3 linked regions of the Homo sapiens genome follow. The protein of the gene in region 1 purifies or fractionates together with the protein of each later gene. This does not show direct contact. Each region holds a gene or a part of one and is shown on either strand. Other genes may lie near its edges.

The links.
Region 2: the proteins of SAP30BP (region 1) and OCRL purify together in Homo sapiens (co-immunoprecipitation; one large-scale study listed by IntAct). This does not show direct contact.
Region 3: the proteins of SAP30BP (region 1) and OGA purify together in Homo sapiens (affinity purification with mass spectrometry; one large-scale study listed by BioGRID and IntAct). This does not show direct contact.

The regions. Positions count from the first base shown.
Region 1 is NC_000017.11:75,705,220-75,708,593, reverse strand, and holds the end of SAP30BP (SAP30-binding protein), read right to left. Parts: intron 2,984-3,374; coding exon of another isoform or gene 2,903-2,983; intron 2,587-2,902; coding exon 2,502-2,586; intron 2,255-2,501; coding exon 2,073-2,254; 3' UTR 535-2,072; downstream 1-534. UniProt on the Homo sapiens protein: Plays a role in transcriptional repression by promoting histone deacetylase activity, leading to deacetylation of histone H3.
Region 2 is NC_000023.11:129,571,155-129,574,806, forward strand, and holds part of OCRL (inositol polyphosphate 5-phosphatase OCRL), read left to right. Parts: intron 1-3,652. UniProt on the Homo sapiens protein: Catalyzes the hydrolysis of the 5-position phosphate of phosphatidylinositol 4,5-bisphosphate (PtdIns(4,5)P2) and phosphatidylinositol-3,4,5-bisphosphate (PtdIns(3,4,5)P3), with the greatest catalytic activity towards PtdIns(4,5)P2.
Region 3 is NC_000010.11:101,804,840-101,808,491, reverse strand, and holds part of OGA (protein O-GlcNAcase), read left to right. Parts: intron 1-590; coding exon 591-762; intron 763-2,348; coding exon 2,349-2,447; intron 2,448-3,652.

The sequences.
Region 1 (3,374 bases):
GAGGTAGCAGGTGTGTGGGTGGGGGACAGTAGGAGCCGTGGACAGAGTTCAGTTTGGACACTGTTCTCTGGCGAGCAGACACACACTGGTTAGAAACAACTTTGGCCCCTAGTGCCTGGGCCATCCACCCACAACAGGAACTGTTCACACACCTCTGGGCCATCCTTGATGTGACTAAGGTGGGCAAGCACCATTTTATAGAAGAGTAAATGAAAGTCTAGAAGGATTAAAAACCTTGACCCAACTCACGAGGCTGGTAAGTGGGGCAGCAGTTTTGGCCTGGGGTTGCCCAACTTCTAAGCCTATGTTCATTCTCCAGGCCCCCTACCTCTGCGGCCCCGCAGGAGACAGTCATTACTGCTTTAACTGGACAGATGAATGGCAGCGCCAGGGCTGCCCAGAGGAAAGCGGGGAGGGGAAAGACCTGCCAAACCCTACCCCGCCGACAGAGCACGAGACGGGGGACAGGCCAGGAGTTTGCTTCTCTCCTTGGTCTACAACAAAAAAAAATTGGATTTAGCCAACAAAAAACACTGGCAGGAACTTTACAGTTTATAAAGCTTTTGCATAAGTCACCTCTGGTTCTTCCCAACCATCTTACGACGCTTTATTACTGTGATTTCAGAGAAGAAACAGGCTTACAGAGGTTAAGGGCTTGAGACCACTCAACTGGTTTTAAGTGGAATCCAGACCAGAGGTGCCGGCTCCACGTCTACTGCCCTTTCCACGGTGCCATGCTGCCTCCCACAAAACATCCACAGTGCCCTTGGCCAATGAGGGGCCGCCATCGGAGGTCACAGGAAGCCTTTTCACAGTCCCTCTGGGGCATGAGTGGGGAGCAGCTCTTCTCCCCAGAGCTTTAAAGCCCCATCGAGGAAGGGGTGAGAACTGACCTCCTGAAGTGCCCGAGTGTGTGTGTACGGGGAGAGTGGACTCAATTTTTATTTTTGAAACCTCATGCACAGAGTTCCTTATATTCCCCAGGTCCCACAAGAGTACCAGGTGCCATTTCAGAACCACCTTTCTAAACCTCTGCCCACCCACTGAAAGCAACACGGCCCTTCACAGCCTGGCTTCCTTCTTTTGACACACAGCCCTTCCGCTCCAGTGGAGAATCGCCAAAGATCATGAAGGGTAAATAGTCTCCTCTGAACCCCTGGTCTGGGAAACCCGTTTCAACCCCGGGGGGAGCCCAGTGGCCACTGGTGCTGCCCAGGGGCTGCTGTGGGGCAGAGATAACACACAGAGGAAGGGTGGGGTGGCAGGAGCCCTCCCAGGAGCAGGGCTTGCCTGTAAACAATGAGCTGCCGCCTCGCCAAGGCAGGAGGTGATTCATCTCCCCCGCTGCTCAGCTCCTGCTGGCTGCGCTCACCGGGCACCAAAGGACTGGGGCAGCCCTGGCCAGGCGCTGACGCCTCCCCACTCTCTGCACAGGTCAGGATCTCACCCCAGCCCTTCTGGAAACTGGCTTGACTTCAAAAGCCTTCCTGGGTGTGTCCAAAAAGTGATCTGGTCTGGGGAGTGCTCAAGTGCACTCAAGGGAGCACAGCTCCACCATCACCCGAGAACTGGCTGGGTTTTGGGATCAAGGCGGCAGATGGGGCATACGTGGGGCTCGGGGACTCCCGCCTGTCCATGCCCAGAGGCATACACGGATAACAACGGTGACTTCTTGGGTCACCCCTCTGAACAGCGTCCCAGGCCTCCATCACCCTGTTGTCAACCCTGAGGCAATAGTCCCAACCAAGACTATTGAGTCTTGGGGGACATGTGAGCTGAAGCATTTGCCTGCAAACAGAATGCAGGAGAGGCCAGTGCATCTGAGATGCCAAGAGGTAAGAATACGGCACTTTTAATAGGCGGCAGACCCCAGGTGGTGCGTGGACAGACCCTGTCCACAGCGCCTGGCTCCCGTGCTGCCTGTCCTTCCATCTGGAATGCCAAACAGAAGCTCCTCTCAGGTGGCATCTGGGGAGTAGGTCCCAGTCCTGAAATATACAAAGTGGCGCCTCCCACTGGGCAGTGGTCACTGGGCTGCACGGTCCTTTCAAGTCCTAGGGTGGCCCCTCAGGTCACTGCTTGGCCTTCTTCACAATGGTGCCCACAGCAGAGATGACGGTGGTCTTGGAGCCGCTGGCGCTGGTGGTGACCGTGACAACAGCTGGCAGGGTGGCTGTGGTGGTGAGGATGGTGGGCTGGGCTATCGTTGTCACTGGGATAGCCGAATCCCACTTGCTCTTTCTCTTCTGAGCATCTGGAGATAAAGCAGAAATCAGGATCACGATCCACCAATGAGCGGTGCCCTCTTTCCCTTCCCCCTGCAGGCCAGCGGGAGTCTAGGGAGCAGACCCCGAAGTGGCCCACCCCAGACTCCAAAGGTGCTTCTCAAAGTAGCAAGGCTGAGCCCAGGCCCAGATCCACGTGCTGTCTGTCGCCCAAACAAGCCAGGGAGACCCTGGCTCCATGTGTGTGGCAGGAGGCAGGGCAGCTCTGCAATCTACCTGCAACAGCTGTGCTGGCAGTGGTAGTGGTGGTGGACGTGGCGTTGGTCGTGGTGCCTTTTTTGGTGCCCGTCACAAACTCAATCTGGAGAGGGAGAGGGAAGAGAATAAGACCAGGCAAAGCTGGGTGTCCACAGCTTTTTGCCATCCGTCAGCTCCTGGGGGACAGGAGCTTGGCACTACACAAAAGAGGCATTGGAAATGAACTCTGCTCTGCCCATCTGGGGTAGGGCGAGATGTCTAAGAAGAACCCAAAGGGGCTTTTCACTCTTAAAAGAACTTTCCAAACAGTACTGTATCCCTCCCGGCATCACCAGGTCTCTGCACATGCCCGGCACCCCCCGCCCACCGCCCCACCTCACATGCCCAGAACCGTTTGGCCAGGCCCCTCCTCCTCACACCCAGGAGGAGGCGGTGCCCGCCCGCACAGGGGAAGGACAGCTCCGGTCCCCAGGCGCTGCAGACACGTCCCTGCAACAAGCCTGGGGTTTGGAAGGGAGAGGGAAAGAGAGAGAAGGGAGATTCAATCAAGGGTTAAGAATGAGAAACCCCAACTATCCCCTTGCACCAGCTCCCACGTTCCTGGCCCAGCAGCCAGCACCTCCAGAGGGCCACCAGCATGCCCAGGCCCCACAGCCCCTCTGCTTGGGGTGAGGGAAGCGGTCTGGAGGCCGCAGCTGCTTGAGGATGGTCAGGCCGAGCCAGAAGTGGGAGGAGCTGGTGTCCTGATGCCCGGCTCTGAGACTGGTCACAAAGGGAACAAGGCCCAGAGATAACAGTTTGGTCTCCCAGCCAAACTGATGCTCCCTGAAGAACCCAGACCACACTGCCAGGGAACAAGTGGTGCTCAGGGCCCTAACGTGGGACCTAATA
Region 2 (3,652 bases), on another chromosome or scaffold:
AGATAACTTCTTTTAGCCCATCTAATTTCTAGTTTGTACTTGCAGGCTGCCCCTTTTTCTTCATTTGAATTCTCTTAATCCATTTTGAGAGGGTATCTTTCCTCAAACACTAACCTCTTTGGTTAGATCAGGTATGCCTGGCTTTTTTGTTTACATTTCTTTTCAAAACCTTCAGATTTTTTTGTTTGTTTTTGTTTTTTGTTTTTTGGTTTTTTTTTTTTTTTTTTTGAGACAGAGTCTCGCTCTGTCACCCAGGTTGGAGTGCAGTGGCACGATCTTGGCTCACTGCAAGCTCCGCCTCCTGGGTTCACGCCATTCTCTTGCCTCAGCCTCCCGCCCAGCTAATTTTTTGTATTTTTAGTAGAGACGGGGTTTCACCATGTTAGCCAGGATGATCTCGATCTCCTGACCTTGTGGTCCACCCGCCTCAGCCTCCCAAAGTGCTGAGATTACAGGCATGAGCCACCGCTCGCAGCCAACCTTGGGATGTTTTTAATACTCCATACACATTAATGCAGAGCTTCTAGTGGGATATTTACATTTTTTTTCAGGCTTCCTGTGTATTTATGTATATCTTTAATAAAGATATGCCTTTTGAGTTTTTAATGATTTTTAAATTATACAGCAATGACAAGTGCTTTTAAAAAAATTAAAAGGAAATTTAAGCAGAATTGACAGATAAGGCAGAAGTTCTTCAATCCCTGTTCTGTCTCCTACTCCCAACTTTGCCTAAACCCCCATTCCCCAGCCAGGCCACTACCCTTAGGAGTTTATATCTTTCTAGACCAGTGCTGTCCAATAGAGCTTTCTGTGATGATGGAAATGTCCTGTATCTGTGCTGTCCAGTCCAGTGGCTTCTAGCAGCAGGGGGCTATTGAGTACTTGAAGTGTGGCTAGTGCAACTGAGAACTGAACTTCTAATTTAATTTAATTTAAAGTAATTTAAATTCAAATTCCCTATGTGGCTAGTCACTATTGTACTGGACAGTGCAGTTCTAGACCTTTGTATATGCTTTTTTGTTCACTCATAGACAAAATACTGATTTGTGTGTGTCTCTATATCATAAACGGTCTTATATGTATGTGTTGGTCTGCAACTTGATTTTTTTTTTTAACTCAGCAGTGTGTCTTGGAGAACCTCCCATCTTATTACATAAAGACCTAGCTCATTGTACTTTTTTTCAAATTCCTAATTTTGTCAGTAATTTCCTTTACTAAAATGGATGTGTCAGGTTGTGAAATTCTTTGGGGTTCCCCCCCTCCTCATTATCTTTGATTTGCCATTAAGTGCTGTGATCATGATAACCCGCTGAGAAAAAGTTTGATTTTATTGAGTAATCACCCCATGTTTTGGATTCTTGGGCATGCTATGATTAGAGGCTTTAAAAACCACACTATATTTTCACCACCATTGGCACCAATGACTGTTAACAAAGGAGCCAAGTGCACCGTGGCCAATTAATTTCAGAAGACTTTCTGTGGGCTGGCTGAGATAGAGCTAGGATAGGGTTCCAACCCTGCACTTGGTACTGTGATCTGTTGCATTGGTTCTCAGACTTCAGTGGATGTAAGAATTGCTTAGAGAGCTTTAAAAAAAGTGTGGATGCATGTGTCCTCACCCCTAGAGGCTGTGATTAGTAGACCCAGGCAGCTGTGCTTTTAAGACATACTCAAGTTGATTCTGTCACATATCTAGTATATTGGAAAGAGTCTTAAACTAGTCCAGATGTCACCTTTGGTATTCACTGTAGCAGTGAGCAAGTTTGTTGATTGTTTTGTATCTTAATGTTCTCAACTATCGGAACAAAAATATTCCTTGCTTTGGTAGCCTTCCAGGTTGTGAAAATAAAAAGACATGTGCAAAATACTTTTGGAAATTAAAAGTTGCAAAGTTTTGTAAAAGTATAAAATTCATCTTAAACTAATGCTATACTATGGACCCTGGTGATGGTAAAGTGATTGTTTGATCCTCGGTTCTCTAAGAGTTACAGTTCAAATATGTGAAAAACTTCCCCAGTCTGAGATACTTGACTCAGCTTTGATGTTCTTATTTTCAACATTTTAAAAAATTTTTATTTCACTTCAAGTTGTGGGATACAAGTGCAGAACGTATAGGCTTGTTACATAGGTATGTGTGCCATGTTGGTTTGCTGCACCTATCAACCCATCATCTAGGTTTTAAGCCCCACGTGCATTAGCTATTTAACCTTAATGCTCTCCTTCCCCTCGCCCCACTACCCCGAGTGGCCTGGTGTGTGTTGTTCCCCTCCCTGTGTCCATGTGTTCTCATTCTTCAACTCCCACCTATAAGTGAGAATATGCGGTGCTTGGTTTTCTGTTCCTGTGTTAGTTTGCTAAGGATGATGGCTTCCAGCTTCATCCATGTCCCTGCAAAGGACATGACTTTTTTTATTTTTTGAGGTGGAGTCTTGCTCTGTTGCCCAGGCTGGAGTGCAGTGGTGCAATCTTGGCTCACTTCAACCTCCGCCTCCCGGGCTCAAGGGATTCTCCTGCCTCAGCCTCCCAAGTGACTGGGATTACAGGCACCCACCACCATGCCTGGCTAATTTTTTTTTTGTACTTTTAGTAGAGACAGAGTTTCACCGTGTTGGCTGGGGTGGTTTCGAACTCCTGACCTCTAGTGATCCTCCTGCCTCGGCCTCCCGCAGTGCTAGGATTACAGGTGTGAGCCACTGTGCCCAGCCTGATCTCATTCCTTTTTATGGCTGTATAGTATTCCATGGTGTATATTTACCACATTTTCTTTATCAAGTCTTATTATTAATGGGCATTTGGGTTGGTTCCATGTCTTTGCTATTGTAAGTAGTGCTGCAGTAAACATATGTGTGCATGTGTCTTTATAGTAGAATGATTTATATTCTTTTGGGTATATACCCAGTAATGGGATTGCTGGGTCAAATGGTATTTCTGGTTCTAGATCCTTGAGGAATCGCCACACTGTCTTGCACAATGGTTGAACTAATTTACACTCCTACCAACAGTGTAAAAGCGTTCCTACTTCTCCACAGCCTCACCAGCATCTGTTTCCACATCTTTTTAGAACCTTTGCTGCATGTATCAATTTTTTTTGACATGAATTTTTGTGAAATTTCCTAGTCTAAAAAAGAAACCGATATCTCAAGTTAAAATCTGTTAGTTATGTTAATTTTGGCATTGGTTTGTATGAAGTTTTAATATTTAAAAAAACACAGCTATATCAGGAAGCTGAAAGTGCTGTGTCAGGTGGAAAATTTTTTTATCAGTGGAGATGTGTTTATACGTTGTCATGGTTTTACTCTAGTCTAGGACATTTTGTTTCAGCCATTTTCTAAAATGGCTGTAGGTTCCATTTATTAATATATCTCTGCTATTATGTAATCTGAGCAGTGATATTATACTTCTTGGTATTGTACATAGAATCTAATAGAGTTAAAAGCTTTTTAATAATATTTGCTGCCACCTCACCAAGTTATGATTGTTAGAAACAGTAATTGCTGTGTTTTGACACTGTCATTTTGTACAGTGCAAGCAATCATTTTTACCACAATTATCACATTTTTTCCACTACCAAATAACTTAACAATGAAGCAAGAAAATATTCTTCCCAAATATTTATTATTACCAAGCTTCTTAACGTAGGGGTTTAACTTTT
Region 3 (3,652 bases), on another chromosome or scaffold:
GGATCAGTGTGCCTTTTGGGACTAGGACACAGCCTGGCTTTTTCATGTCTTAAGGTTACTTACTCATGTTTCTGTATTTTTCTGACTTTGTTGGGTCTTCTACAATCAGCAGCAGCCCATGAGGACTAGGAGGCTAGGCCACTTTGTTGGATCATATTGTCATATAAGTTGAGTATCCCTAATTCAGAAATCTGAAATGTTCCAAAATATGAAACTCTTTGAGCTCCATAAAATTCAAAGGAAATGCTCATTGGAGCATTTCAGATTTTGGATTTTCAGGTTAGGGATGCTGAATATAATACAGATATTCCAAAATCCAGGAAAAAACAAAAATGAAAATCCAAAACATTTTTGGTCCCAAGCATTTCAGATAAGGAATACTCAGCCTGTAGTGCATTCAAACCCAAATGAGAAATGGGTCCCAAAACTGTTTAACTTACGATTTTTTAATTGAAAATGTAAAAACAATAAATCTGTCTTTGAACATTCTAGTAAGGAAAATACTGGATTTTAAGTATAACTGTTAACGCTGTAATGTTTGGAATTCTTAATTTTTTTACTCTTGATTCTTTTTTTTTTTTTTCTCCTAGGTTTCTCAGTTTGGGTGCAGATCATTTGCTTTGCTTTTTGATGATATAGACCATAATATGTGTGCAGCAGACAAAGAGGTATTCAGTTCTTTTGCTCATGCCCAAGTCTCCATCACAAATGAAATCTATCAGTACCTAGGAGAGCCAGAAACTTTCCTCTTCTGTCCCACAGGTATTGTATATAATGGCTTTACATTTAACTAGTCTTCTTGGAATATATAACTTATAAAGGACCATGGGCCCCATTCTCTCTCCACTTCCCTCCTCCTTTGGTGTGTAAAAGTAGGAATCTTTTTTTAGAAGACATTTTTCAAGATCCTAAATTGGAGAAATTTTAGGAACTAATAAATGACAACTGACTAGGCAAAAGATTTTTATGTATTTTTAAGTACTGGAAGTATATGAACATTACATTGTCAATATTAAAAGAGGGATAGTATTGAAATGAAAACTGGAGAAAAACCAAATTACATTGCTTTTACCTTAGTCACTTCTCATTTCCTCCTACTTGTCCCCTTTTTCTGCCCATGCATATCTGTCCCTTTTTGCACTCCTCCCACTCCCATCTGGGCTCTTATTTCAAGTAGTCAGCATAGAAAGCTTAACAGTTTTTCCCGTTTTCCTTTCTTTTTGCCCCTCTGGTTTCTTTCATTGAAAATATTTTAGTCTCTTAGTTGCTTCTCAAAATTCAACTTACAGGAAGTTTTCCCCACACTTCCTTGTTCAGGAAGAATTTTAGATTAAATTATTTAACTTTCTTTGTGTGTATTGTGAGCCGAGAACCTTATTTTAGTTGAGTACTACATTAGTACCCAGAAGTTTTAAGATTATACTGGGAATTAATTAGCTGCAAGTTACAGTTTAAGTTGCAGTTGAGTACTAATAGCCATTGGTATATGCCTTTAAAAAAATTTTTTTTAAATTTTACTTTTAAGTTTGTATTATTTATTTAGAGACCGGGCTATAAAACTGGCTAATTTTTATATTTTTGGTAGAGACGGGGTTTCGCCATATTGCCCAGGCTAGTGTCGAACTCTTGGGCTCAAGTGATCCACCCGCTTCAGCCTCCCAAAATGCTGGGATTGCAGGTGTGAGCCACTGTGCCCAGCTGCCATTGGCATATTCTTGTATTAGTTCTATTATGATATTATCAATTCATTCTGTTTGGCGTTTAATTGTAACTGAGAAAAGTAGGCAATTCAGAATTCTGTAGAAAATGCTGCAGTTCTTGTTTTTTTAGTAAACTTGTATTTCTAGTAACTGTAGTATCGTAAGAATTGATCTGTACTACTGTTGGAGGAAAAATACCAGATTTTATGAATTTCTTAAATGAACTGCCCACTTTAGTTCCTTGTAGGAGGCCTTTTATCATTTAGATGAAAATAATTTAGAATTGGCAGACATTTTTTCCACATTCAAAAACCCATGGGCCTTTTGGGAGGCCAAGGCGGGCGGATTGCCTGAGCTCAGGAGTTTGCGACCAACCTGGGCAGCATGGTGAAACCCCATCTCTACTAAAATACAAAAAAAAATTAGCCGGGCGTGGCGGCGTGCGCCTGTAGTCCCAGCTGCTTGGGAGGCTGAGGCAGGAGAATTGCTTGAGCCCAGGAGGCAGAGGTTGCAGTGAGCCGAGATCGTGCCACTGCACTCTAGCCTGGGCATCAAGAGTGAGACTCCGTCTCAAAGAAAACAAACAAACAAAGAGAAAACCCATGAGCATTTTAATTCTGACTTTTTTACTTTTCTCCCTACATTTAGAATACTGTGGCACTTTCTGTTATCCAAATGTGTCTCAGTCTCCATATTTAAGGACTGTGGGTGAAAAGCTTCTACCTGGAATTGAAGTGCTTTGGACAGGTAAGTCTTTTAAGATTTATACAGTCAAAGTTGAATTAAGTAGGACTTGCAGAAATTGCTTGTTCTTGTTAATTGAATACTTTTTTTTTTGAGACGGAGTCTCACTCTGTCGCCCAGGATGGAGTCCAGTGGCATGATCTCGGCTCACTGCACGCTCCGCCTCCCAGGTTCACACCATTCTCCTGCCTCAGCCTCCCGAGTAGCTGGGACTACAGGCACCCGCCACCACGCCTGGCTAATTTTTTGTATTTTTAGTAGAGACAGGGTTTCACCATGTTAGCCAGGATGGTCTCGATCTCCTGACCTCGTGATCCACCCGCCTTGGCCTCCCAAAGTGCTGGGATTACAGGCGTGAGCCACCACGCCTGGCCTTTTTTTTTTTTTTTTTTGAGACAGAGCATTGCTCTTGTTGCCCAGGCTGGAGTGCAGTGGCACAATCTCAGCTCCCTGCAAACTCTGCCTCCCGGGTTCAAGCAATTCTCCTGACTCAGCCTCCCAAGTAGCTGGGATTACAGGCACACGCCACCACACCCAGCTAATTTTTGTATTTCTAGTAGAGACGGGGTTTCTCCATGTTAGCCAGGCTGGTCTCAAACTCCCGACCTCAGGTGATCTGCCCACTTCGGCCTCCCAAAGTGCTGGGATTACACATGTGACCCACTGCACCTGGCCCAGAGAACTTGTTAAAATACGCTTTCTTTTACAAAGTTTACATATTCTCTTAATATGAAAAAACATCTATCATGGTTGGGGAGCCTGAGTGGGGAGCCTGAGGTGGAAGCCCCCAGGAGTTCAAGACCAGCTTAGACAACATAGAGAGACTGTAGAAAAAATAAAAAACTTAGCCAGGTGGGCTGGTGCACACCTGTAGTCCCAGCTACTTAGGGGGCTGAGGTGGAAGGATCACTTGAGCCCGGGAGGTAGAGGCTGCAGTGAGCTGTGATCATGCCACTGCACTCCAGCCTGAGCAACAGAATGAGACCCTGTCTCAAAAAAAATTCAGTTAATAAATAATAAAGATTTATAGGGAATTGGGCTAAAAGGTATTGATCCCATCCTTAAGCAGCGTTAGGAAACTCTTCTATTTTATAAAACGAAAAAAATAAAGCTCAGTAAAAGACATGTTGTGTTTTCAAAAGAAAAATTGTGGCTGGGTGCATTGGTTCGTGCCTGTAATCCCAGTGCTGTGGGAGGCTTGAGTTGAG